Homo sapiens: one gene and its partners. Changing the gene in region 7 together with the main gene of any one other region gives a genetic interaction. Each region holds a gene or a part of one and is shown on either strand. Other genes may lie near its edges. The genes, in order: PRR16, PLB1, TLR7, ATP2B2, STX4, MYLK2 and SPPL3.

Region 1 (3,500 bases), on a different chromosome or scaffold from region 7:
AATATAAATTATCGGCGAGCTCTTCTTAACTTGCAACAGAAATTAAAAATAAAAAAGTAGTTATGACTATATCACTATGGCAGTCATCATATAGTATTTATTTTTTCTTTCTGCTTTTAAAAAATATCTAGTTAAAATGCAATCTTCTTTAATTCTGTTCTTTGTTTTTGTGTAATTTCTGCACCAACAATATTAAACTTTGGTTTGAGGTTACTCTGAAATTGCTTTTCTTCATAGAAGTTTTCTGGGCTTAAGTCATCTGAAAACTCAGGTAGTAGGATAGAATCAAACATAATAGTAATTGCTTGAAACACTTTAATAAGTAGTGACAAAACTCTAGTCTGCTCAGCAAGAAGAGTTGTTATTTTGGGTATCTGTTTTATGATTATTTAGTTATAATTACTTAATCAGTTATAATTGGATTATATATTAGAAGCAGAGGAACAGGCTTTCTAGAAAGTCAAAGAGCAGCCTTATTCTACTCTCAGAATTTAGTAAAATCTCAAATAATTTGACTTTTCAGAAATAATATGGGTCCTTTTGTTTTCTATGCTATTAATATATTGGAAAAGCCTTAAATATAATTCAGTATACTTATTGAGCACCTACCATGTTCCAAGTACTATAACACCTTTTAAATTGCTACCAAGATGAATAAGGCATAGTTTCTGGTCTCAGTGAGCTCCAAAGGTTAGTTAGGGATATATTTATCCTGTCTTCCAACATCAGCAGTATAAAAAGACATTGTGGCCTTTAGTGGCCACTCTCACTGCAGGCTTGGGGAAATCGAGAATTGAGAATGAGAGTGAGTATATGTTGATTTATAAAATGATGTGTGCTGCATACTTAGTAGTATGGCAAGTCTTTGATGAAGAAATAAGCTTAAAAAGATGAAAATATATGAATTTTAAGAAATTTACAGTTGACTTAGATTGTCATGGTTAACATAAATGGATCAATACCATATACAGGAGATTACATATTCAAATGTTGTAACTAAATACTGAAGATTTCCATGAAAGCTAAGTCTTTTGGAGAAATGGAGAGTTAAAAAGGAAGATTTTGAATTCTTCTTTTTCTTAATGTAAATAGGGTTTTAAGAGGTAGTCACAGGTAAAAGGAAATAGGTTTGGACTACAAGAGTAATCCATGTTGCATTTTTCTACACATTGAAAAAAAAGAAGAAAATAGTGGTGAAACTCTAGAGTTTTAGTGATAAAATTAACCATAACTGGTAGAGTAGGTGTGAGTGATACTTTTTCACTAAGAAATGTAGAAACAAAGCAATTGCTTTTTAAAATAGTTCTCAAATAATCTAATGCCTTTGAGTAGCAATATGCCTGTTCTTTTATGAAGATCTCACTGGTAAACTATTTTGCATTAAATGCTGGTATTAATATGGGATCACATATCTTATTGGTCAGAGTGACACTGGAATCTGTAATAATCAGCCTTTTATCTGGAAACAAAACTAATTGCAGCTTTAGCTGGATTCTCTTTTAGTTTAGACTTGTTATAACCTTGAGCTTTTCTTGTAGTGTTTATTTTTATGATTTCAAGTAACAAGGCTACTATATGAGTTGAAAAACATATGTAAATAATTTCTTGAGAGGCTTTCTGAATAGACATGACTCTAACAGAGAAACTAAAATAAAGTTGTTTTGTTGTTGCCTTAGAATCACTCAGTGACTGGATCTCCATTGGTGAGAAGTATGTCAGCATTGTTGCCATGGACTGGAAAGCACCCATAATTTGTCTTACAATGGCATAAACTGAAATAAATTTAAGTTGAATTTTGAACAATTTGAACCCCATAGGAAACAGTCTGATTTGAACTGATGAAAACAGAATTAACAATTATCTGAAAAATATTTTCACTTCTAAATGTTCCCTCTTTTAATGTCTTAACCACTTGATGTTCTATAGTTTATTGTCTGGAAATTCCTACCGAGTATTTTTTGGTTAATGAGCCCATGCATAAAAAATTCGTTACAAGAAAAAATTATAGAGAATAATCTCGGAACTATTTTCTTTTTGTTTGAGACAGTATCTTGCCCTGTCACTTAGGTTGTAGGGCAGTGTTAGAGATCTTGGCTCACTGCAGCCTCCATCTCTTAGGTTGAAGGAGTCTTACCACCTCAGCCTTCTGAGTAGCTGGGACTAGAGGCATGCGCCGCCATGCCTGGCTAATTTTTAATTTTTTTTTTTTTGATAGAGATGGTGTCTTGCCATATTCCCCAGGCTGATCTTGAACACCTGTCTTCAAGTCATCCTCCTGCTTAGGCCTCCCAAAGTGGTAGAATTATAGGTATGAGCCACCATGTCTGGCTTGAAGTATTTTCCAAGTTCTAAAGTTGTGTATAAATAGAATTTAGTAGTTCTTTTAATTGTAGCAATAGTCATACTTTTACTACTTTATACCACAGTCTACCTCCCCAAACTGTGGTATATTTACCAAATGCTAAAATGCTCTGAAATTTTTCTTTACTTAGGCATGATGGCCTAGCAGTTACCAAAAATAATTTTGAGAACATAGAGGTAGCCAATAATCATCCATCACTGTCTATTTCCAATGAATTAAAACATTCAACACTTAGAGAATTAGCTGATAAGAAATTCAAGCAGCCTTAAAGTAATAGATAGTGTGTTTCAGGCAACAGTGAAGTAATAGATAATAAAGCCAGTGTAATAGGTTTCATTATTACCTGGATTATGTTATTTTCATCCTTGCTTCTCTGAGGATCTCAGGTACTTAAATCTAAATGTAGGAAAAAAGATAGAAATGCAAGTTTGAGCAAAACATATTTTCCCAAACTATAGAACTTTTCTTCTGTAGAGATAGTTCTTGAAAAATTTCAGGGGCAATTTTAGAGATTTAGAGTAATAAAATTCCAGTAGGTCGCTGATTCAACTCTGATTGAAATATACATGACTGACATCAAGCTGCAAATACAAAGTTAACAAACAACAAAGGGCACTATTAAAAAAATCAAATTTATTTTTTCTGATGTTAGGAGCAGCACATGAATATTATAGAAAGTTTGCAAAAATCTAAAGAAATATAAAGGAGAAAACAAAAATTATCTTTAGTACCACATAAAAATAAGTATACTAAACATTTTGTCATATTTTCTTTTAGTCTTTTTGTATGCATATTTTAACATAGATGAAGTTATACAAAGTTATAAATTATAAGCAATGACATTTTCTACTTTCTTGAATGATATAGATCGTAACTATTACACAGATTTGCTATAAGTTACTTCATACTTCCCTTAATATTGGGTATTCTATTTATTTCCAGCTTTTCATGGTTATTAAACGTCACTAGAAAGAGCAGTTTTGGCAATATGAATATCTAACAGAGGTCTTACTCTCTGCCAGGTACTCTTCTCAGCGCATTTATTTATATTAAATTATCTAATTCTCAAAACAGGTAGATGAGGAAGTTACTGATATTGCCCATTTTACACATAAGAAATCTGAGGTCCGAGATAGTA
Region 2 (3,500 bases), on a different chromosome or scaffold from region 7:
TCTTGGTCTTACCCGGTAGGCTCGGCTGAAGGCCTCCAGCCTGGCTAGCTCTTGGGAGTTCTCCCGCAGGGTCAGAACGCAGTTACACAAAACGCTGCACAAAGAGGGGGAGGCAGGAGGCCCCAGAGCTCAGGCTTCCATCAGGGGCTGGTTCTGATTGCCCAGGTTCAGGGGAGGGGTGGAGAGGCTCCCTCCCGCCCTGGTTTAGGAGCACTCAAGCCTTGAGGCTCTGGCGCACATGCTCAGGGGCAGGCTTCAGGCCTGGCAGGGGCACTGGAGATGGCCCGAGGGAGGGAGCCAGTGTGGGAATGAGCACCCTCTCATACCAACAGAGCACAAGTGTTGGACTGCAGGTGCTGGGCCTGCAACCGATTATTCAGCTGAGCAAATGAATTTGGGCAGTGAAAATTTAGTGTTTAATTAAAAAGAAAATGCATCCTCTGGTGTTGGAGCTGATATTTTGGGGCCTCTGATGCTATGCCTTAGACCTCTCCTTCTTTCACATGAGTGCCCTACTGTGTCCCCTTTGGTTTCATCATGAATTATTTCACACCCATCACATCTACTTAAGAGAGAGATTTCTAAAGCACTTGAAACAATGCCTGGTACACAGGAAGTTCTGTAAGATTTGCTGAGTAAATAGATGTGTAAGATATAAAGAATAATAAAACACACATCCATGTACTTATGGCCCAGTTTAAGAAACAAAACACTCCCAGTTTGAAGCTCCCTGTGTCCCTCCTAATTCTCTTCTTCCCCTAAAGGTAACTGAGTTGCTTGTACCTTTTCCTTGCTTTCTGTTACAGTTTGACCACATATGTCTACTTCCCTAACCACTGCCCATGTTCACAGTCTAGGCTATCCTGTCTCTCAAACACCAGCCTCTGTCCCAACTTTGATCCCTCCCCTCTGTGGCTGCCTGGTATCATAGAAGTTCCTGCCAGGCACCTTGAAGTTGGGTAACAGGGGAGTCATGGCTCCAGCCTCTGGAAGGGGACGTTCTGGCAGAAGTCCTCCTTTACAGACTTGGACACATGGATAGACCAAGTCACAAAGACCCTGAGGCATCACCACTGCATGTGGGCCAGACCAGGAGGTGAGGGCATCTCCAGTGTGGGGACAGCCAGGACCTGCCTACCTGGCCTGCTGCACTGGGCACTTGTCTGGGTTTCCCAGGAACACCTGCCGCATGATAGTGGGGTTCAGGAAGTCCACGAGGTTGACCAGGACTCTGGGCACCTAAGGGAAAAGCTGCAGATGAGAGGGGGGCTCCAGGCACTTCTTCCTGGGGCTGTCTCAGGGCCCCTAGGAATGGGTTCCTTTAGCAATCCAGCTTGGTCTTTCTGGAGTTGAGTTCTGGGGAGGAGTCTATACAGGGCTACCTCGTAGGGCCTTACAGGCCGTACATCACACAACTCCATGGGTGCCACCCAAAGGGGCTGCAGCGGCAATGGCACCTCCTGGAGTGGGACAATAAAGACTAAGAGATCATCTCTGTTTAGCCATCATGTAGCAAGCCCAGATACATTAGAATTACCTTCGGTGAGATAGGCAACCTCTTCCCTCCAGCCCAAACTGGCCTAACTCTGCTGAGTAGGCACGCAGACTCAACCCCCACAGGGGAGCATCTGGTGGTCAGAGTGCCCTGTCTCACGCAGCCAGGGCAGCTTGTCCTTGCCAGAAGATGGTGGTGGTGGAGGGGGAATGTGCTGCTGGGTGCAGGACCAGACAGGGGCTTGCTCTAGACACACCCTGTGGCTCAGAAGGCAGTGCCCAGCCTGGGGGCCACCTGGCTGCCACCACCAGAAAATGTCCCGGATAGTAGTGGGGAGACATTAGACAATTCCACCAAGGAGTGTCCCATGTAGTGGTGAGGGAACAGCCTTCCCTCCTTCAGACCTGAGGCCCTTCTGGGCTGATTCCATATAAAATAAGGTTTCCTTGGGGTTAGACCCCAACCTCTGAAAAGGGAAGGAGTCCATGCCCCTGGCTGTCTCCTTGAGAGAAAGGGGTTCTTCTCTCATTCTTTCCCCCCATCCACCTTCACCCTCACCATGCTTGAGCTGTTACCAGCTTGTGGAAGCCCCCCACCCACCTCTCTATGCAGGACGTCCAAGGCATTGCGGAGATGGTGAACAAAGTTGGCTGCAGAATACAGATTCTAGAAAGAGACAGGAAGGAGGAAAAGGAGGAACTGGTTAGGGTGGGAGGGCAGTGGGGCAGTTCTCAACTTCCCTTCTGGCTCCAGCCCTGAGGACTTGTTCCCCCTCTAGCCTCCAGCTGTGGCCAGCTCACCATGTCAAAATCTGAGATGAACAGTTGACTACTTGCTGTTGTCAAAGATGGGCCAGTGGGAAGACTGGAACCTTCAGCCAGAGCTTTGGTTCAGGAGCAGAAAGTGGAGACTCCTCCTTCCAATTGCTTGCTACAGTTTCCTCTTTCTGAATTCTCAGGAGTTATAAGAGAGAGGAGTAGAAATACCATATATCTGCCACCTGCTACCTCACCACCTAGGACATGGAGATGGTGCCAAGGACCTGGAGGGTGGTGGGGTAAGAAGTGTGTGTGTGTGTGTGTGTGTGTGTGTGTGGTATGTGTATATGTGCAGACATAGGTGTAGGTGGATAATCCTAGGATTGGTTTTAGGAACTGTTCTCAGGGAAGATCTCCAACGCCTACTGGGCAAAGTTAGGAACAACAAGTAGGCCTGGACCTGGCCCCAATTACCGAATCTGTGCAGTAGTCACATAAATCGCTGCCTCCGATCAGCACTGTGATGACCTTCCAGTCTTCATGGAAATTTACTCTCTATATGGAGGGAGGAAAATGCTTGATAATTTCCAACAAGGAAATGAAAATATCCCTGCCCTAGGAAATCCATTCAACCCTCTATAACATCCTTGCCCACTTGAAATAATGGAATCAGCATCTCTGAACTGAAGGAATTTTAGAGGTTTATTTATAGACCACAGACTCTTAGCATCAGGAGGGATTTTCAGTGTCGCTGTACCCAGCAACAAAGCTCTCTCCATTGACATACCCTCCTCCACAGGACCTCTGTCAGGGGGCTGTCCGACCACTGCTTGAATGCCTCTAATAACATGGGGCTCACTGCTTTTCAGAGCAGGCCACTCCGTTTGGAGACAACTTTAGTGGGTTAGAAAATTAATGTTTAGAAATAACAGTAAATCTGACTCACATGATCATCTTTCATCTTCTGCATCAGAGTTTGGACTTGGCTCATAAGATCCCTGAGAAAGAGAGAAAACCCATCCTTCTGTTGAGGAACAGTGCCCATAGTTTTCCTCCTAGAGGGCCTGAACCAGAGGCTTCTACAGTATCATCCCCACTGCATGAGCTGGCAGAGATCCCGAGGCTCAGAAACCAGGAGTGACTTGCCTCTTCTGGAAAGTTATTACAACAGATAATCATTTGAAAAGCCAATGATGTGTTTGTCCTACAGCTGTAGTCAAAGTACTGCCAATTATATTTGTTGCTCA
Region 3 (3,500 bases), on a different chromosome or scaffold from region 7:
ATGTTGGATAATCTGTGATGATGGTTTACATAAACACATGTGTTGCATATTCTAATTTCATTCAACATCCCTACTTTATAACCATTTTACAGTTGGCAAATCAGAGGCTCATGAGGTCAAGTGATTTATGAAAGTCAGAGAGCTCTTACATGACAGAACAAGGACTTAAAACCAAATTTTTGTACTGACAAAGCCTTGGCTGTTACTAGAATGCTTCTCACCATGTGAAATAGATGCAGGGATGGGAAATTACTATTAGAAGGGACCATCTCCCAAAATGTCAATAGTGGTTCAGCAAATTTAAAAGTAAAAATATTATTCTGCTCTTAACCTATAGGAAATTTCTTTATGGCTAAAAAAAGGTTATTAAGTAATCAATTTATTAAATTAATACAATCTGATTATTTAAAAATTTGGAACGCTGTACTAAAATTAAAAATCATCATTACAGATTAACCAGCCAGTACCTCTGCACCCCAAGAATAAATAATGTATATCCCCGAAACTCACCGAAGTTTAGGGCTGGGGTTGGCAAACTATGGCCCATGGGCTATATCCCACCTGCTGTACAGCTCATGAGCTAAGGGGTTTTTTTTTAATTGTTGTTTTTAAAAGACTGAAAAATATCAGAGCAAAATTACTATTTTGTGACATATAAAAGTTACATTCAAGTTTCAGTGTTTACAAATGGTTTTATTGTTTGAGTATTTGTTTACTTATTGTTGATAAGTGCTTTTGCACTACGATGGCAAACTATTCAAGGAGTTGGGTAGTGTGACAGAGAACCTGATGGCCTGCAAAGATTAAACCATTTACTAACTGGCCCTTTACAGAAAAAGTACGTCAGGCCGGGGCTTATAGAAAACAAAGGGATAAGGTATAAGGTCAAATAGGTTTGAGAGCCCTATGGTCTTTGGTGACTGTTGTGATGCATAATAGCTGTTGAGTTCCTAATTTATGTAAGACAACTTTATATCCTTTTATTCTTTTAGTTTGAAAACTAAGTCTGTTGGGCTAAAATGATAGGAAGTAAATGATAACTCTCTCCTTTTTTTAAAAAAAAGCAAGTGGTTTACAACCTTGTACTTAAACGTTTTGGTGACATAATGAAACTGATATTCATGGTATTTGTACTTTACAGAGATTAAACTAAAATTAAAAATATTTCAAAATTCACAAATAGGGGATATTTGTTAATAAATCTATTTGGGAAATTCCTAGCAGAGGCTCAGTCTATAAAATGAATAGCATTTCAGCAACTTCCCTTATTCACAGTGCTTGGTTATTCTCTAGGGAGACATACACAACACATCTCTAGTTACCAAACAATTCAGTGTGATATAAACATGGCAAAAAGTCAATGAATTTGAGGGCAAGGTTTCCAGCAATCGCCCCGGCCATTGCTTACTTCTTCCATGCCCTTTCTAAGTTTTCTTCAGCCAGGCAGCCATCCCCTCTGGTTTCTCCCAGACCCCCGCTGCAGGCTCCCCGCCATCACAGAAAGCCCCTCGCTCACACGTCTTGGCTCAAGCAACTCTTTGTCTTAGAAATGCAGATCCCAACATTTCCTTTTAAACTCAGGCAACTTGGCTTTTTTCTGCTCTGTGATCTTGAAAGTCGCTTGGAGGAACAGCTGAGTGCATGGGGCTGTTGTCCTCTCAGGGCTAACATGTTGTAGCCCAGGGGGTGCCCAGGGGCCTTTCTGACTGGTTGGTTAGTTGGGTAAAAGAGTAGAGTCAGGAGAGCAGGAAATCCTTTCTTAACTCACTATAAAAATAAAAGCGTTCCCCAGGCCTCAAATAGTCTCATCTCAAGATAAATTTCCTTTTGCCAAGATTGCTGCTGAAAATAATCCATTGTAGCCAGATAATAGCTATGCAAAGAATATATAATAGACTGGCAGGGGCATGCCTACCGATTCAATACAGAAAGGTGAGGGTTTCATTTGCTGGGGTGTAGTGGGTGGGAGAATTCCTTATTGCAATCACACTCTACTTCTCCATCCAGAAAACTCTCCAACCCTCCTGGAGGACTCTCCATTTTCTCCTCTTTCTCCTCCTTGTGTACCTACCTAGACCATCTGCTCCCATATGTCCTGTCTGACTTCCTGTTCCAGTTACCTATCACTGCGTAAGAGATCACCTCAAAATGCAATGGCTTCAAACAACAACAATCATATACTGCTTTCTATCATGGGTCCAGGAGTTGACTGGACTCATTAGGCAGCTCTCCCACAGGGTCTCTCTTGGGGTGGCAGTCAGGCGGTGACTGCGACTGGAATCACCTGAAGACTCACTCTCCAGGTCTGATGCCTGGGCTAGGAGACTCAACAGCTAGGTGCCGAAGCAGCTGCAGCTCCTCAAGTGTCTCTGTCTCCATGTGGTCTCTCTAATATGGTGGTTGTCGTATAGCCAGGCTTCTTACAAGGGTGATGACTCAGGACTCCAAAGCAAGTGGGTGAGAGAAAGGGAGAGAGGGAGAAACAGGGAGAGAGAGAGAGAAAGTGTGTGTGTGCCAGTACGCGCGAGGTGAAAGCTGTATTGCCTGTGAACTACCCACCATGTCTTTCGTCCTCTTGACAGGAAACCTCCTAGAAATGTTTGCTGTCTCCAAATCCCTCTCCTTACGTTCTTCCAAGAACTTTGAAGTCATATTTTATGTAGCTACTCCTTCAAAACATATCTGGTGTTCGGCCAGTTCTTACGCCCTCCAGCACTGCTACCTGGGACTTCTGCTTGAATGACTGTAATAGCCTCTCAACTAGTCTCCCTGCTTTCACCCTTGCCCCTCACTGTCTATTCTCAACACAGCAGCCAGCAGCATCCTTCTCAAATGTAAGTCAGACCAACTGATTGTCAGCTCAAAAATTTGCAATGCATCTGCATTCCACCCAGAGCAGAGACCGCCATCCATGGAATGGTAGAGAAAGCCCAACATGCTCAGGGACACTCCCTCTCTGACTTCATCTCCTATTGTTCTCCTACACCCCCTGCTTCAGCAATATTGGCCCCGTTGCCATTTTTGTGAATATTCTAGCATGTTTTCACCTTGGGGCCTTTGCTCCAGGCTAATCCATCTGTCTGGAATGCATTTCCCCTGGATGTCTGTTATGGATGACTTTGTCCTTTCCTTGAGGTCTTTGTTTAGATATCAACTTCTTAATGATGCCTATCCAAGCTGCCCTATTTATCGTCACAATCCTACCCCACATTCCTGATCCTTTTCACTCTGCCCTGTTTTCTTTTTCAGTAACACTTATCACTTGACATGCAATATCATTTCTGACAGTTATATATTTTTGTGATTATTTAGAGAACATAAGCTATAGTTGAGTGGAAATCTTTTCTATTTTGTCCACTGATGTCCCAAACACCTAGAGAAGTACCTGGCATGTTGCAGGCATCAATAAATACTTGTTGAATTTTTCCTTTTTCACAATTTCCTTCTACGTTGTTATGATGAGATCTTATTTCCTCTGTAATTTGATTTTAAAAGTTTTA
Region 4 (4,147 bases), on a different chromosome or scaffold from region 7:
TAAGTTCTTGAGCTATAGGTTCCCAAAATTTTGGTACCCCAATTTGAACTGGCCTCATGCCGAAGGGTCAAAGAGGGTAGTTGGGCACCTGGTGGCCTGCCTTCTACCTCCCCTCTGCCACATGCCAGCTGTGTGACCTTGGGTGACACAGCTTCACCTCTCTAGATACAGCGTCCTCATCTGGGACGTGGGGATAACAGGGCTATGGGCGTCCTCACTGAGATGATACGTGCAAAGCAGTTAGCTGGGTGAATGCTAGCTGGATTACTATTATTTACTTGGGTCCCCTGACCCATACCTGCGCCTGAGCTGGGGGAACGCAGAGGAGGGCAGCGGGACAGCACAGGAGGGTGCCAGCATTTCAGGCTCTGCATACAACGTAAGCCACAGCAGCTTCTCTGACCTTCAGTCTGGAGGGGACTTTGGAGTCTGCTGAAGGTGTTCCAGGCCCCAGCTCTCAGAGACCCCATAGCAGCGGGCTGGTTTCCTGATGCCAGGGAGAGGGCTGGTGGGGCCAGTCTGGGCTCCTGGCGGTCTGGGCCACGGGCAGCAGCTGCGTCCCTGGCCGCCTCTGTCTCCTTTCCAACTTTGGGCAGCCTTCTCTGAAGAACATCAATAACCCAAGATGGCCTTGCTGAGTCTAATCACAGCTCCCTGGGAATACGGGCTGGCCCTCCCCCAACGCCTGTGTGAGGCTGTGGCGGGCACTTAGGATCCAGTATCCCTCTGTCCTCATCGGAAGTCCCTTAAGGGGCAAGCTCTCCCTAGCACCCACAGAGCCACCTTGCCTCCTGGAAGCTGAGGGGGCGGGTGTGTGCACGCAGCATCCGCAGAGGTGCTGCATCTGTGTGCCTGTGGCCGTCTTCTTATGTGTGCAACTGACATTCACCTGTGGGCACATTCCAGCATGCCATGTGCCTGCCAATGCACGGGCAGGCACGCAGATGGCATTCAGAGCCCCACATGTGTGTGCCTGTTGTTTTCACACCTGAGCCAGCCCTCAGGTGGGTACACACATTTCTGGCTGTTGCAGGGCACTGTGTGCAGCCTACTGCTTTCCCGTGTTAGTGCTACATGCATGTGTGGGCAAGCTGCATGCACAGGTGTGTATGTGTGTACTGCATTCGTGTGTGTGCTGTGTTTTGCACGTGAGCATGTGGTGTTCAGGAACGTGGGTTGTATTTACAGGTGCTGGGGTGTGGGCATGGGCATTCCATATGTGTATATATGATTTGGACATATATGACGCACTACTTATGGGTACTATATTTGTATCTGTGCATATGTGTGAATTTGTGGGCATGCATATGCCCTGATGTGAATGGGACTAGGGTGTGAAGGTGGCTAAATAATGGTGGCCATCAGCATCTTTCCTGGACCCCCAACCCCCCACAGGACTCCCCAGAGCTGCAGCCCCTTCTTTGCCACTGCTCCTTCAACGAAGTTAACAGGCGGAGGCCCCCAAGGCCTGCGCTCCAAGCCCCCTCCTACTGCACACGTCAAAGGAGAATTTCTCCGGATGGCGCCCGCTGATCCTGGAAATACCCCAAACGTCAGCTCTGCCTCCTCCCAGCGATTCGGAGAGCAATGCAGGAGAGGAGGGAGCCCCTTCCACGCTGGGCTCAGGGCATGCAGCGTCGCACTAAGACCCTCTGCCGGCTGGTCGGGCTTGCCTGCTCACTTACCCTTCTGAAGGTCGAGCCAGGCTGGGCCTCTGCATGGAGGGCCCGAGACCCCCAGGGCCCTTGCCTGATTGGGGCAGGCCAGTCCAGAGCACCCCCCCAACCCCCAACCCCCAACCTGGGTGAGCAGAGGACAGCCGTGGTGTGGAATAGCTACTTGGCTAGAAAGGGGTTGCTGCTGTCCGCAACCCACCCTCAGGGAGTCCTGAGGCCCCCTGCTGCATTTTCCCATCCTGACCCTGCAGGGGGCAGGGAGGAGCCTCAGGTGCCCTATCCCTCAGCTGGAGACCACTGAGGCTGGCCTAGGAAGTGGGCTTCTGGGCAGAGGGTGCCGACTCCACCACCCAGCATGACTGCTGCAAAATGGCCTGGCCACCCGTTCCTGCCACCCTCCTGGCCATGGAGGGGACCCAGGAACACGTCCCTGCCACCACATGACCCGGCTGGCCTGACCCAATGAGTCCCAGCACACAGCTGCCCACCCCACCAAAGGGACGCTTCACAGGGGCCTCCTCCTGCCTCTTTCCTGGGACTCTGACCAGGGTGGGCAACGGGCACCCTCCAGTCCTCTTGGTCTCCCTGGGACCGGCTCAGAGAGAAGAGAACCTTGTCCCCTGCCACCAGCTTGCTGGCCCTTGCATAACATCCTTAGGGGGCATTTGCAGTCCAGAGGCTGCCGGAATCTACCTGAGACCCTGGGCATCCGCTTGTCCGAGGCCCCCCTGTCCTAGTCCCCAGCATCCAGCCGTCCCCCACAACACGCGGACCCTCACACTAGTGTCTCCCTCAGCGGCGGCTCCCAGTGCAGCCTCGGCTGCTGCCAGATAAACAAGCCCTGCTCCCACCCCCCCTCCACGCTGCCACCGCCACCACCATCAGCACTGAGAAAAATCAAATGAAATGAAACAAAATAAAATGGGTGAGGGAGGAAGGGGAGAGTGGAGTGGGGCGCTTTTTATTTTTTATTTTCTCATGCTGGGGGATGCCGGTACTTACTTGGCTATGAAAATCACCACCAATCCTGCACGGTTTCCCGGCGGGCAGCCCCGTAATCGCGGTGCGGCAGCTGGTGCCGCGGCTGAGCCCAGCCAGCGTGCCCGGGCCCCTCTGCAGACTGTACCATCCTGCCCGAGCGGGTGGGGGGCGGGGGGCGGAGGCGCCGGCGCCGGTTCTAGGAGAGCATCTCGCCGGCAAAATGCAATCTCGGGGGAGGCAGAGGCCGCCCCTGCCGCTGCCGGAGGCTGGGGGATGGGGGCGGGAGGAGGGAGGGAGGGAGGGACACAGGGAGGGCCGGTTCTGGAGGGGGCACGGGGGAGGAGAGTGGGGGGCGGGGGGGGTGTGTGGACCGAACCACCACGCTGTTGTTTGCGGTTTTAATTCCTCCCGTGGGATCATGAGGAACCGAAGCTGGCAGAGTCCCAGGAATATGCCCGCTCCCCAGAAGCAGGAGGGAATGTCAAGGGCACGGAGAGGGTAGGGCTGGGCTGTGCTGGAGGGAAGGGGGTCCTGAGAGTGGTGGTGGGGAGAACGGGAGCAGAGAGGGGAGGATTTTGCTCAAATGGCCCCAAGTCGTCCCTTGCTTTCTGGGGGACTTATTTGGTCAGGGGCTCTGGCCCCCCTCTTTGCAGTCAAGGCACCCCCAGACCTGGGGGGCAAAGGGGCAAAGGTCGCAAATGGGGAGAAGTCGACTCAACACATTTTAAACACATCTGTGTTTCCAGGGCCAGTGGAGCTGAGCCCGCAGCAGCTCTCTGCTGCCCTGAAGCGCTACCCCTGCGACCCGCCCTGCCTGTGTGCGACCCCACCTGCCCTCGGGGGGGTGTGGTGGTGGGGGCTGGCTTGGCAGAAGGGCCTGCCTCAAGAAGGTGCCCACCAGCAGGGGTGTCTGCATGTCTGTACACCCACCTAATCTTCAGGACATCTATGATGAGTTGCAGGCCGACTGTGGGCTGACTGACACTTCCACGGGAACCCAGGGACCCCGGGTGAGGAGTCGGTAGGGTTGGAAGCCCCTAGCCAGCTGCTCACCTCTTCCTGCCTAATCTCTGCCAGACTTGCTGCTCTTTCAACTCCAGATGGGTGGGAGGAGAGCCCTAAGAGCAAGGTTAGGAGGTCACCGGGGGCGAGGGGCTTCTCTAGAATTCTGAAGCCTTGGCCTCCACTGCCCTGCCCCCTCCAGGAGGGGTACCCTGCTTGGAGGGAGGGCACTGAAGGTGGAAGGACCTTCAGGACCAGTGTCTCAGGGCACCTGTCAGGGTGGAGGGGTGCATGGGGGACAGGGGCAGGGCTGGAGGCGGCCCCGGGAGGCAGTTCCAGGCAGAAGCTGCCTCTTTCCCCTGCCCCCACCTCCTGCCCACCTCTGAGCTGCCCGCCCGAGCGTCCCGAGCTGCCGCTCCATCCCTGGGCTGGCACAGAATACCAATTTGTCTCGTTAAGCTGAAAGTCTGCACTGCACCAAAATCAGA
Region 5 (4,107 bases), on a different chromosome or scaffold from region 7:
AGCAGTGAACCAGTGATCCCTGTCCTCATGGAACTTCCCTTCTGGTGTAGACAATCACCATAATAAATAAGTGAATTATTTAGAACATAATAAGCATTAAGGAAAAAAGAGCAGGGGAAGAGGGACTAAGCATGCTGGAGGAGGTAGAGTTGCAGTTGAAAGCAGGTGGAGGAAGCTTCATTCAGAAGGTAACATCTGAACAAGAGACTTAAAGGTGTTTGCTGGGAATGAGCATTCTAGGTAGAAGGAAAAGTGAATGCAAAGGCTTAAGCTGAGAGTGTGCTTTGTCTAGGGAGGGGTAAGGAGACCAGTGTGGATGGGCAGAGGAAGGGAACAGTAAGAGGAAGTAAGATCAGAGAGGTCATGGGAGAAGGAGAGATCATAGAGGGCTAGCCAGGCACCGTGGCTCACGCCTGTAATCCCAGCACTTTGGAGGCTGAGGTGGGAGGATTGGTTGAGCCCAGGAGTTTGAGACCAGCCTGGGCAATATAGTGAGACCCCCCCCCCTTTTTTTTTTTTCCTTTGAGACAGGGTCTCACTCTGTTGCCCAGGCTGGAGTACAGTGGTGCCATCTCTGCTCACTGCAACCTCCGCCTCCTGGGTTCAAGCCATTCTCTTGCTTCAGCCTCCCAAGTAGCTGGGACTACAGGCGCCCACCACTGCACCAAGCTAATTTCTGTACTTTTAGTAGAGATGGGGTTTCACCACGTTGGCCAGGCTGGTCTTGACCTCCTGACCTCAGGTGATCCACCTGCCTCAGCCTCCCAAAGTGCTGGGATCACAGGCATGAGCCACCGTGCCCGGCCAACCCTGTCTCTATTAAAAATAAAAATAGGCCAGGTGCAGTGGCTCACGCCTGTAATGGAGGCCGAGGCAGGTGGATCACAAGGTCAAGAGATCAAGACCATCCTGGCCAACATGGTGAAACCCCATCTCTACTAAAAATACAAAAATTAGCCGTGCGTGGTGGCGCGTGCCTGTAGTCCCAGCTACTCGGGAGGCTGAGGCAAGAGAATTGCTTGAACCCGGGAGGCCAAGGTTGCAGTGAGCCGAGATTGTGCCACTGCACTCCAGCCTGGGCAACAAGAGTGAAACTCTGTCTCAAAAAACAAATAATAAATAAATAAATAAATAAATAAATAAATAAATAAATAAAAAAGATCATGGAGGACCACATAGGCCTGATAAGGGCTTTGGCTTTTAGTCTAAGAGAAATGGGGGAGCCTGTCAAGGTCATCACAAGGTGGTTAAGGTGGCAGATCCCGCATAAGAGCTCATGCTATTTGCTCACTGTACTATGGGGTTGCCGAGGCACCGACCGGGCAGGGATCCTCCCAGGGGCACTCAGCCTATATTCTTCATCTTTAGCATGGGGTCCTGTCCCAGCAATTCGTGGAGCTCATCAACAAGTGCAATTCAATGCAGTCCGAATACCGGGAGAAGAACGTGGAGCGGATTCGGAGGCAGCTGAAGATCAGTGAGTTGTGCATGCCCAGCCTGGCCCGCAGGGGCAGGTAATCCCAACCCAACCCTGAGCCTGGCCTTTTCCTTCACAGCCAATGCTGGGATGGTGTCTGATGAGGAGTTGGAGCAGATGCTGGACAGTGGGCAAAGCGAGGTGTTTGTGTCCAATGTGAGTGGCCACAGCCAGCCCCTCTCTGCTGTGCCTCCCATCCCCTCTGAGTCCTGTCCGTTTCTCGACCTCCTGGGCTCAGGTGATCCTCCTGCCTCAGCCTCCCGAGTAGCTGGGACTATAGGTGCAAGCCACTGCACCCCGCTTGCTGTGGCCCTTTCTGATTAAGGGCACCCTGAGGCCTCTAAGGGAATTAATTAGCCTGCCTGGAGTCACCCATCAGATTCCAGGCTGAGGGCTCCCCAGAAGCTCAACAGGAGTTTCTGACCTGCTGTCGGTCTCCCTGTGAACAGTTGCCCCACTCCTGTCCACCCCCCAGATCCTGAAGGACACGCAGGTGACTCGACAGGCCTTAAATGAGATCTCGGCCCGGCACAGTGAGATCCAGCAGCTTGAACGCAGTATTCGTGAGCTGCACGACATATTCACTTTTCTGGCTACCGAAGTGGAGATGCAGGTGGGTGCCCCGCGCAGCCCCAGACGTGAGACCAGGCTCAGTCCAAACTGCCAGCCTCCCGCCACCCTTAGATTCTCTCCCTGAGGCTTTTGTGTCTTCCAGGTTTGGCCATGCCCCCAGATTGGTGCTTATTCCTATCCTTAGCTGTACCCCGAGAATGGCACCTGCCTCTGCTGCTACACAGATGCCCACTCCCTTCTGCATAGCACCCTGCCCCCTCTCCAAAACTTGAGCCTGCCCAGGTCTGGCCCCAGCCCTCACTCCCCCTCCACTAACAGCATCCACCCTTATACCTCTCAGAGGTCCAGTCAGAGTTGCCCTAGAGGGGCTGCCTCCTAACATCTGTACAAGGCTGGGGTGGGGGCGGCGTTCCCCTGGCCCTGGTTGTGAGTTGAGTTGAGCTTCCAGCCCTGTCCTGGAGGAGCTGGCCTCAGTCATGCTACAGCCAATGCCCTTTTGCAGCTGAGACTTACAGGAAAGAGATCTCATTCAGTAGGAGTACTGAGACCTGAGGCTGGTGGTGCCAGGAGGAGGCAGGGATAGGGAGGGCTTTGCAGCAGCTGTAGATAGGCCTGGAAGAATGGGTAAATTCAGACAGATTTGTGAAGGCACAGTTCACCATCTGTGAAAGGTATGAGCCATTTGAGGCCCTTAGCTCCAAGCTACCACTGCAGATAGAGGTTGTATGGGATAAGTGAGCAGGGGACAAGGGACTACATGATAGAAGGGGCCTGGAAGCCATCCCCAAGGAGTCTGAACTTTTGTCAGATCAAGTCTTGCCCTTGTCTTTGTTAGTGCAATTTTTTTTTCCTGCCAGGAATGTTCTTCAGTCATCTGGGGTGGGGTGGGCAAAGGCATCCTTACCTCCCTGAACCACCCCATCCTCTGAGCAGGGGGAGATGATCAATCGGATTGAGAAGAACATCCTGAGCTCAGCGGACTACGTGGAACGTGGGCAGGAGCACGTCAAGACGGCCCTGGAGAACCAGAAGAAGGCGAGGAAGGTGAGCCTCCCAGGCCCGGCCACTGCCCCAGGCACCCTGTGTGACTTCCCTGACCCCCTCCTCTCCCACAGAAGAAAGTCTTGATTGCCATCTGTGTGTCCATCACCGTCGTCCTCCTAGCAGTCATCATTGGCGTCACAGTGGTTGGATAATGTCGCACATTGTTGGTGAGATGTTGTGGGCTGCCCCCTGGCCTGCCCCAGCCCTGGCCCCAGCCCTCCCTCCTCCCTCAGACCCTGTTCTCCCTCCTTTCCTTACAGGCACTAGGAGCACCAGGAACCCAGGGCCTGGCCTTCTCTCCCAGCAGCCTGGGGGGCAGGGCAGAGCCTCCAGTCGGACCCCTTCCTCACACTGGCCCCTATGCAGAAGGGCAGACAGTTCTTCTGGGGTTGGCAGCTGCTCATTCATGATGGCCTCCTCCTTCAGGCCTCAATGCCTGGGGGAGGCCTGCACTGTCCTGATTGGCCGGGACACACGGTTTTGTAAAAAATTAAAAAACAAAAAAAGAGCATAGAAAGCCCTGTGCACGTGTGTTCCTGGAAGGGCTGGCCCAAGGCTTCCGGGCATCCAACCTCCTTACCTCCTGGACGTCCCCAGGGCCAGGTCTGGCCCTGGCTGCTCAGGTCAAACTGCCAGGGGTGCTGTGCCCACAGCAGGCTGGTTCTGCCTTTCTGCACCCCCATAGGAATGGGTGGGCAGGGAGGGGTAACACCGGCATCTAGCTCCTGGCTCAGTACTGTCCCCGGGAAAGGACCACTGTGAGTATCTGTCTTGGAAATGATGAGGCTGACCAGGCCAGGCTGGGACGCAGGTGAGATGGGGGTTTGGGTGGCATCAGTGGGCCTTCTTGTGGCCCAGAGGAAGAGGCACCATGAAAAAATGCCTAATTGAGGCTGTCACTTTGGATGCAGTGGATAGGGATGGTCTGGTTTCAGCAGGGATGACATTGGAGTGGGATGTTAAGCTGGGGAAGAGGTTGCCAGTCAGAAAGCACAGGAGGCCGGGCCCTGTGA
Region 6 (2,915 bases), on a different chromosome or scaffold from region 7:
GACTTTTCTGTTTTTGCCCTGGGCTGGCTCCTGTCCTAGAGTGGAGACCTCTACCCGGCCTTCCACCCAGCCCCACCCATCTGGGGCTCTGGCTTCCCTCCTTCATTTTTCAAATATTTCTTGAGCATCTACTACTTCTAGGCATTGGGATATAGGAGTGGACAAAAGAGACAAAGATCTCAGTCTTTGTGGAGTTACTTTTGGTGAGAGATGGGGCATTTTCTATCTTTTTTTCTTTCTTTCAATACAGTCTTGCTCTGTCACCCAGGCTGGGGTACAATGGCGTGATCTCGGCCCACTGCAACCTCTGCCTCCCAGGTTCAAGCAATTCTCCTGCCTCAGCCTTCCAAGTAGCTGGGATTACAGGCACCCACCATCACACCTGGCTAATTTTTGTATTTTTAGTGGAGACGGGGTTTCACCATGTTGGCCAGGCTGGTCTTGAACTCCTGACCTCGTGATCCACCTGCCTCCGCCTCCCAAAGTGCTGGGATTACAGGCGTGAGCCACTGTGCCTGGCTGAGGTGGGGCATTTTCTAGAGCCCTGTGGAAATAGGCAGGGTTAAAGAAGACTTTAGAAAAAAAATAAGGGCCTTCTGCCGGGGAGAGGTTGCACTTTTATTTTTATTTTTTTTAGAGACAGGGTCTCACTCTGCCTCCCCAGCTGGAGTGCAGTGGCGCTATCATGGCTCACTGTAGTCTTGACCTTCTGGGCTCAAGTGATCCTCTCCTTTGGCCTCCTGAATAGCTGGGACCACAGACATATGCCACCACATCCAGTTAATATTTTAAAAATATTTTTGTGGAGATGAGGTCTCGCCATGTTGCTCAGGCAAGCAATCCTCCCGCCTTGGCCTCTCGAAGTGTTGGGATTACAGGTGTGAGCCACTGTGCCCAGCCTGCACTTCTAAATAGGGGGGGTCAGGAAGGGCTCACTGAGAAGCATGTGAACAAAGACCTGAAGGTGGGGAGGGGTGAGCCGTGCCAATACTGGGAGAAGAGTATTCCGGGCAGAGGGAGTAGCCAGTGCAAAGGCCCTGAGGCAGAGGTGTGGTTGGAGAGTTTGAGGAACAGGTAGGAGGCCAGTATGGATGGAGTGGAGTGAGCAAGGAGGTAAGGAATGAAGTTAGAGAGGAAGAGGGGGACAGGAGTTGGAGGGACTCATCGGCCATGGCAAGGGGTTTATCTTTTACTTGGAGCAAAACTGGAGCCATGGGAGTGTTTGGAGCAGAGCGGTCCTTGGTTCAGGTCTGGCTGACCTATCCGTTGAGTGAGGGGACTCCTGGACAATACAGTGTCATGGCGCCTCCCGTGGCCATTTTGGGCACTGCACCTTCTCTAGCCTGTGACCCTCCTGGACTGAAGGGGACTTACAGGCTGCTCAGACACCCTGCAGCTGCCCCCCTGCCCTGGTGTTGACTGGGACTCCCTCTCTTCTGCCCTCTAGAAAAACTTCATTGCTGTCAGCGCTGCCAACCGCTTCAAGAAGATCAGCAGCTCGGGGGCACTGATGGCTCTGGGGGTCTGAGCCCTGGGCGCAGCTGAAGCCTGGACGCAGCCACACAGTGGCCGGGGCTGAAGCCACACAGCCCAGAAGGCCAGAAAAGGCAGCCAGATCCCCAGGGCAGCCTCGTTAGGACAAGGCTGTGCCAGGCTGGGAGGCTCGGGGCTCCCCACGCCCCCATGCAGTGACCGCTTCCCCGATGTGAGCCGCCTCGGAGTGTGGCCTGGATCCATCCTGCTAGCACCTCCCCAGACAGGGCTCCAGCCTGTCGGCCACACCCCAGACTCCAGGCCCCCGTTGAAGCCGCTCCCGGTTCCCTCCCCAGCTCCTCGTCTTTGAACTGCCGCCGCCGTGGTGACCCCTGCTTTGCCCCACTGGGAGAGTCCTTAGCCTGGGCCTCCTCCTAGCTGGAGTGCCATGGCTGGGGGGTCTCAGCATGTAGGGCTTCTGTGGTTGTGGATGGGAGGCTCCTGGTGGGGCAGAAAGGCTGCAACGCTGATTCCTAAGGCCCAGCTGCCAGGGAAGACAGAGCAGGCTTTGTGAGAGAGGACCTCCATGCCCCCGCCACCTCCCCACTCCAGCAGATAAGGCCGAGCCCACACCATCTGGCCCAGGCTGGCCCCCACCCACCTTCCTTGCGACCACCAACACACAGGAACTCTGTGTGAGAGAGAGGGCGCCCAGCCCAGGCCTGGTGGAGGGGGAGGGGAGAAGCCAAGGGACACAGGAGACCACCCCCGAGCTTGCCTCAGGGCCAAGCCGGCCCAACCCAACCACTCGGGGCCCCCATCTTGGGGGTCACCCATGGCCTCAGATGATGGGGTCAGCAGGCCCAGGAGAATTAGGAAGGCCATGGGGCAGCCTCCAGTCTGCTCTCAGCTTGTGCCTTGTAAATAAATGTACAGGTTGGATGTGGCCTCCTTCCCTCTGTGTGTGCCTGCACTGGTGTGAGGTCGCTGATGACCACAGTTCACTGAGCACCTACTGTGTACCGGACACTTTAGCAATATCCGTCAGCTCACAGTTTGGTGGTTCATGCAGGCTCAGGTGCCAGTCTGCCCAGCACATGATGTGGGCAGGTGGCTTCTGCACGTTGTGCCTCAGTATCCTCACCTGTGAGAGGGAGGTCGCAGCAACAGCCTACACCGGGTGTGTGATTACTGCGTGCCCAGCTTTACTTAAAGCGCCTGTGCTGTGTTAACTCATTTACTCCTCACAGCAAAGTTACGAGGCAGGATTGATTGGTTGATTGATTGATTTATGATGGAGTCTCACTCTGTCGTCCAGGCTGGAGTACAGTGGTGTGATCTATGCTCACTGCACGCAACCTCCGCCTCCCGGCTTCAGGTGATTCTCATGAGGCAGGTATTATTATTCCTGTTTTACAGAGGGAGAAACTGAGCCAGAGAGA
Region 7 (3,500 bases):
CCAACATGGTGAAACCCCATCTCTACTAAAAATAAAAAAATTAACCAAGGTGTGCTGGCATGCACCTGTAGTCCCAGCTACTTGGGAGGCTGAGGCAGGAGAATCACTTGAACCTGGAAGGCAGGGGTTGCAGTGAGCTGAGATTGCACCACTGCACTCCAACCTGGGCAACAGAGTGAGACTCTGCCTCTAAATAAATAAATAAATAAAATGCTACACTCTTGGTGCGCTGACTCCACATAGGGCATAGATATCTAGAGAGCCTGTATCGCGAATGTGAGCACTGCTTAGAAACCTTACAGGTTATGTCATCCTCGTAGAGAACATTTGAGCTCGGTTTGGTGTCACTGTCTTTGTCCCTGACTCACTGGTTGTAGAAGACAATGTAATACAGAGATATCAGTGATAAATTGAAAATAACTCTAGCTAAATGGCTAAGATTAATCATTTACTTCCCCCAACACTTTTGGTTAATGTACATTTAACCAAAAGTTAAGTGTGTTGGTAAACCTATAAGAGAGAGTCTCAGGAGTGTCTAAAGCCGCAAGGGAAAGAGAGCACCTCCCTTCACTTTAGCCTTGAAAAGCCCTGAGGAGGAGGTAAGATTTTTTAAGGGTTACTTGAATGACAGAATGAAAGGCAGGCAAACTAGATTGAGAGCATGTTCTGGGAATACGACATTGCTTGTGGCAGTGTTCGCTGGGTCAGAGTGGTATTTATTCCACATGCCTCTAAGAGCCTTCTCTGAGACAGTCAAAAGGATGCCTTCTGCCTCTTCATACACGGAACTTAGACTAGAGTGGGGAGGACCTAGATGGTCTAATTGGAAAGAGGGTGTTCAGCTTAACGCAGATGGAGAGAAGGGATAGGCTGAGGAATAGGAACCCGTTCAGACAGATGCCAAGGCAGAGCCAGCATGGTGCTCAGCTCCACTCTGTGGAGGTTGTGCCTCCTGAGTTTATGCAACTTTATAATTAGACTTGATTCGTCATAGAGAAGGGAACCTGGTGACCTTCAGGCAGGAAATTATGTGAACAGATGTTTGACAGTGGCAGTGAACAGTACATGGGAAAGAGTAAGAGGGAGGGAGGGAAAGGAGACACAGCAAAGTAGGAAGTGGGTGGAGGTGTGAGCAAGGTCTGCAGTAACAGTAAAGGATAACACCTCAGAATGGCTGCAGATTTCATGTGTATGATGAGAGGCTGTGATGTGTTGAAGATGAACCCAGACTTTCTTATTTGGAAGGTTAGGATAGAATGACACTGTCTGGAGTCATGGAAAACCCAGTCACTGAGCAGTCTGTTCCATGTTTAGTTTAGACGCAGGTGGAGGAGGATTAGCATGAGATGAATGACAAAGCAGCAGGTGGATGCTCAGACCTTGTGACCTTTCAAGGCTCCTGCGCAGTTAGGATGAAGTGATTCTATGGCAAATTGAGTACAAAAGTTCAGGAAGGGCCAGACGCGGCGGCCCATGCCTGTAATCCCAGCACTTCGGGAGGCTGAGGCAGGTGGATCACCTGAAGTTAGTAGTTCAAGACCAGCCTGACCAATATGGTGAAACCCCATCTCTATTAAAAATGCAAAAATTAGTTGGGCATGGTGGCGGGCGCTGGTAGTCACTTGAGAGTCACTTGAACCTGGGAGGCACAGGTTGCCGTGAGCCAAGCTTGTGCCACTGCACTCAGCGTGGGCGACAGAGCAAGACTCCATCTCCAAAAAGAAAAGGTCAGGAAGGGACAGGTCGTCTACATGTGTCACAGAGGCGAATAAACTTACCCCGAGGAGCCTGGCCTCTTGCTTCTCTGTTCAGTCTGTTTCCCTGCCCCGCTTTTGGTTACTGGTGAGCTGCATCATTCAGTCCTCTGACCCTCACTCCCCGCAGACTCCTGTCTCCCGTCTGTCCATCCTAGGCCTTCTGTTACTTTCTTCGTGCCCTTGATGCCTTGCATTCCATGTATTCACCTGTAAGTCCATGAACAGATCACCCTAGCCAGTATCTATACACAAACCTGTGTCTCACCTGTGCTCTGGCCCGATGGGCTTCCCACCTGCTGCTGACCACTGTTGTTCCTCCAGCCAGATGAGCTGCTCCCTGGTAATGTCCTGGTTATTGACTCATGACACAACCAAATCTTTGTTTCCTAAAGATGATGATCATGGGAGGTCCTGTCCTTTCAAATATGCGTGTGAGTTGATCAGAGCAGGGGCTCTGGGTACATCTCTCAGTGTCCTAAACATCATGTTTCAGTCATCCCTTTGCAGCTCTGAATGCTCTGAGCTTTGTCAAGCCTCACTGACTAATACATTTCATTAGGTTCATTTCAAATGACATGCATTTGTATACATTTTACCAGGTTGGTTGTATGAATTTATTTAAAAATTAAAGGAGACCTTAGTATAATAAACATTCTATATGATTATAAAGTCAGGAATTAGATCTTGACCACATCTCTCCAGAACTCACACTGCAGCTCACCCTGTAACTCAGTGAGCGCTTGATAACAGTGATGATAGTGGAGATGAAGATATATATTTTGCTCTTCCTAGGTTGAATACTGTCTTTCCAACTCCTCTGAGTTGTAGGGATGAGGCAGCTTTTTCTCCTCTGTGTTTATATTAGCACCGTGCACACAGTAGGAACCCATGAAACAGTAATTTAGTTGATGTGTCCAGGGTCTGCCAAGCTGCTGTATTTATCCACTTTATTACATATATTGACAATTTACCACCAGTTCTATGAAAATGAAATATATCTGTTCATATGGCTTTTTACTTTCCTTAGAATAATTTGAAATTTGAAGTTAATAGAACACAGTTTTGCATTCATTCAGCAAGTATTTATTGAATGTCTACTCTGTCAAGTGCTAGGGATCCACAGAAAGAATCAGACATGGTTTCTGTTTCCCAGGAGCACGTGGTCAGCTAGCACAGGGAATAAACTTACCAGTATGTAAATATTCACAAGGTCATAGAATGGATGAGTGAGTTGAGAGACATTCAACGTTCTATGGCACATCACATAGAAGAAGCAACTGGGCCGGGCGCGGTGGCTCATGCCTGTAATCCCAGCACTTTGGGAGGCCGGGGTGGGTGGATCACCTGAGGTCAGGAGTTTGAGACCAGCCTGACCAACATGGTGAAACCCTGTCTCTACTAAAAATGCAAAAATTAGCTGGGTGTGGTGATGGATGCCTGTAATCCCGGCTACTCGGGAGGCTGAGACAGGAGAATCACTTGAACCCAGGAGGTGGAAGCTGCAGTAAGCTGAGATTGCACCATTGTACTGCAGCCTGGGCAACGAGCAAAACTCTGTCTCAAAAAAACAAAAAAAGAGCAGCAGCAACTGACTGGTTGGATCAGGAAAGACTCTGAGAAAGGACTCCTGACCTGGCTCTTCCAGAATGAGGATGGATTTTCCATATGAAGGAGCCGGGGGCAGGACCTTCTGGGTAGAGCGTGAAAAGAACACAGTATGTGTGGAGAGCGGGAAATTGTGTT

What was found.
Region 1: changes in SPPL3 (region 7) and PRR16 together harm fitness less than expected from each alone (positive genetic interaction), as found in Homo sapiens cells (one large-scale study listed by BioGRID).
Region 2: changes in SPPL3 (region 7) and PLB1 together harm fitness less than expected from each alone (positive genetic interaction), as found in Homo sapiens cells (one large-scale study listed by BioGRID).
Region 3: changes in SPPL3 (region 7) and TLR7 together harm fitness less than expected from each alone (positive genetic interaction), as found in Homo sapiens cells (one large-scale study listed by BioGRID).
Region 4: changes in SPPL3 (region 7) and ATP2B2 together harm fitness less than expected from each alone (positive genetic interaction), as found in Homo sapiens cells (one large-scale study listed by BioGRID).
Region 5: changes in SPPL3 (region 7) and STX4 together harm fitness less than expected from each alone (positive genetic interaction), as found in Homo sapiens cells (one large-scale study listed by BioGRID).
Region 6: changes in SPPL3 (region 7) and MYLK2 together harm fitness less than expected from each alone (positive genetic interaction), as found in Homo sapiens cells (one large-scale study listed by BioGRID).

Annotation. Positions count from the first base shown.
Region 1 is NC_000005.10:120,467,300-120,470,799, forward strand, and holds part of PRR16 (protein Largen), read left to right. Parts: intron 1-3,500. UniProt on the Homo sapiens protein: Regulator of cell size that promotes cell size increase independently of mTOR and Hippo signaling pathways. Acts by stimulating the translation of specific mRNAs, including those encoding proteins affecting mitochondrial functions.
Region 2 is NC_000002.12:28,600,560-28,604,059, reverse strand, and holds part of PLB1 (phospholipase B1, membrane-associated isoform 1 precursor), read right to left. Parts: intron 3,252-3,500; coding exon 3,200-3,251; intron 2,809-3,199; coding exon 2,728-2,808; intron 2,162-2,727; coding exon 2,096-2,161; intron 1,240-2,095; coding exon 1,139-1,239; intron 95-1,138; coding exon 13-94; intron 1-12. UniProt on the Homo sapiens protein: Calcium-independent membrane-associated phospholipase that catalyzes complete diacylation of phospholipids by hydrolyzing both sn-1 and sn-2 fatty acyl chains attached to the glycerol backbone (phospholipase B activity).
Region 3 is NC_000023.11:12,870,072-12,873,571, forward strand, and holds part of TLR7 (toll-like receptor 7 precursor), read left to right. Parts: intron 1-3,500.
Region 4 is NC_000003.12:10,502,787-10,506,933, forward strand, and holds the start of ATP2B2 (plasma membrane calcium-transporting ATPase 2), read right to left. Parts: upstream 2,801-4,147; 5' UTR 2,679-2,800; intron 1-2,678. UniProt on the Homo sapiens protein: ATP-driven Ca(2+) ion pump involved in the maintenance of basal intracellular Ca(2+) levels in specialized cells of cerebellar circuit and vestibular and cochlear systems.
Region 5 is NC_000016.10:31,036,558-31,040,664, forward strand, and holds the end of STX4 (syntaxin-4), read left to right. Parts: intron 1-1,368; coding exon 1,369-1,477; intron 1,478-1,556; coding exon 1,557-1,633; exon of another isoform or gene 1,634-1,636; intron 1,637-1,952; coding exon 1,953-2,090; intron 2,091-2,983; coding exon 2,984-3,094; intron 3,095-3,165; coding exon 3,166-3,246; 3' UTR 3,247-3,261; intron 3,262-3,354; 3' UTR 3,355-3,607; downstream 3,608-4,107. UniProt on the Homo sapiens protein: Plasma membrane t-SNARE that mediates docking of transport vesicles. Necessary for the translocation of SLC2A4 from intracellular vesicles to the plasma membrane.
Region 6 is NC_000020.11:31,832,270-31,835,184, forward strand, and holds the end of MYLK2 (myosin light chain kinase 2, skeletal/cardiac muscle), read left to right. Parts: intron 1-1,447; coding exon 1,448-1,528; 3' UTR 1,529-2,415; downstream 2,416-2,915. UniProt on the Homo sapiens protein: Implicated in the level of global muscle contraction and cardiac function. Phosphorylates a specific serine in the N-terminus of a myosin light chain.
Region 7 is NC_000012.12:120,771,859-120,775,358, reverse strand, and holds part of SPPL3 (signal peptide peptidase-like 3), read left to right. Parts: intron 1-3,500.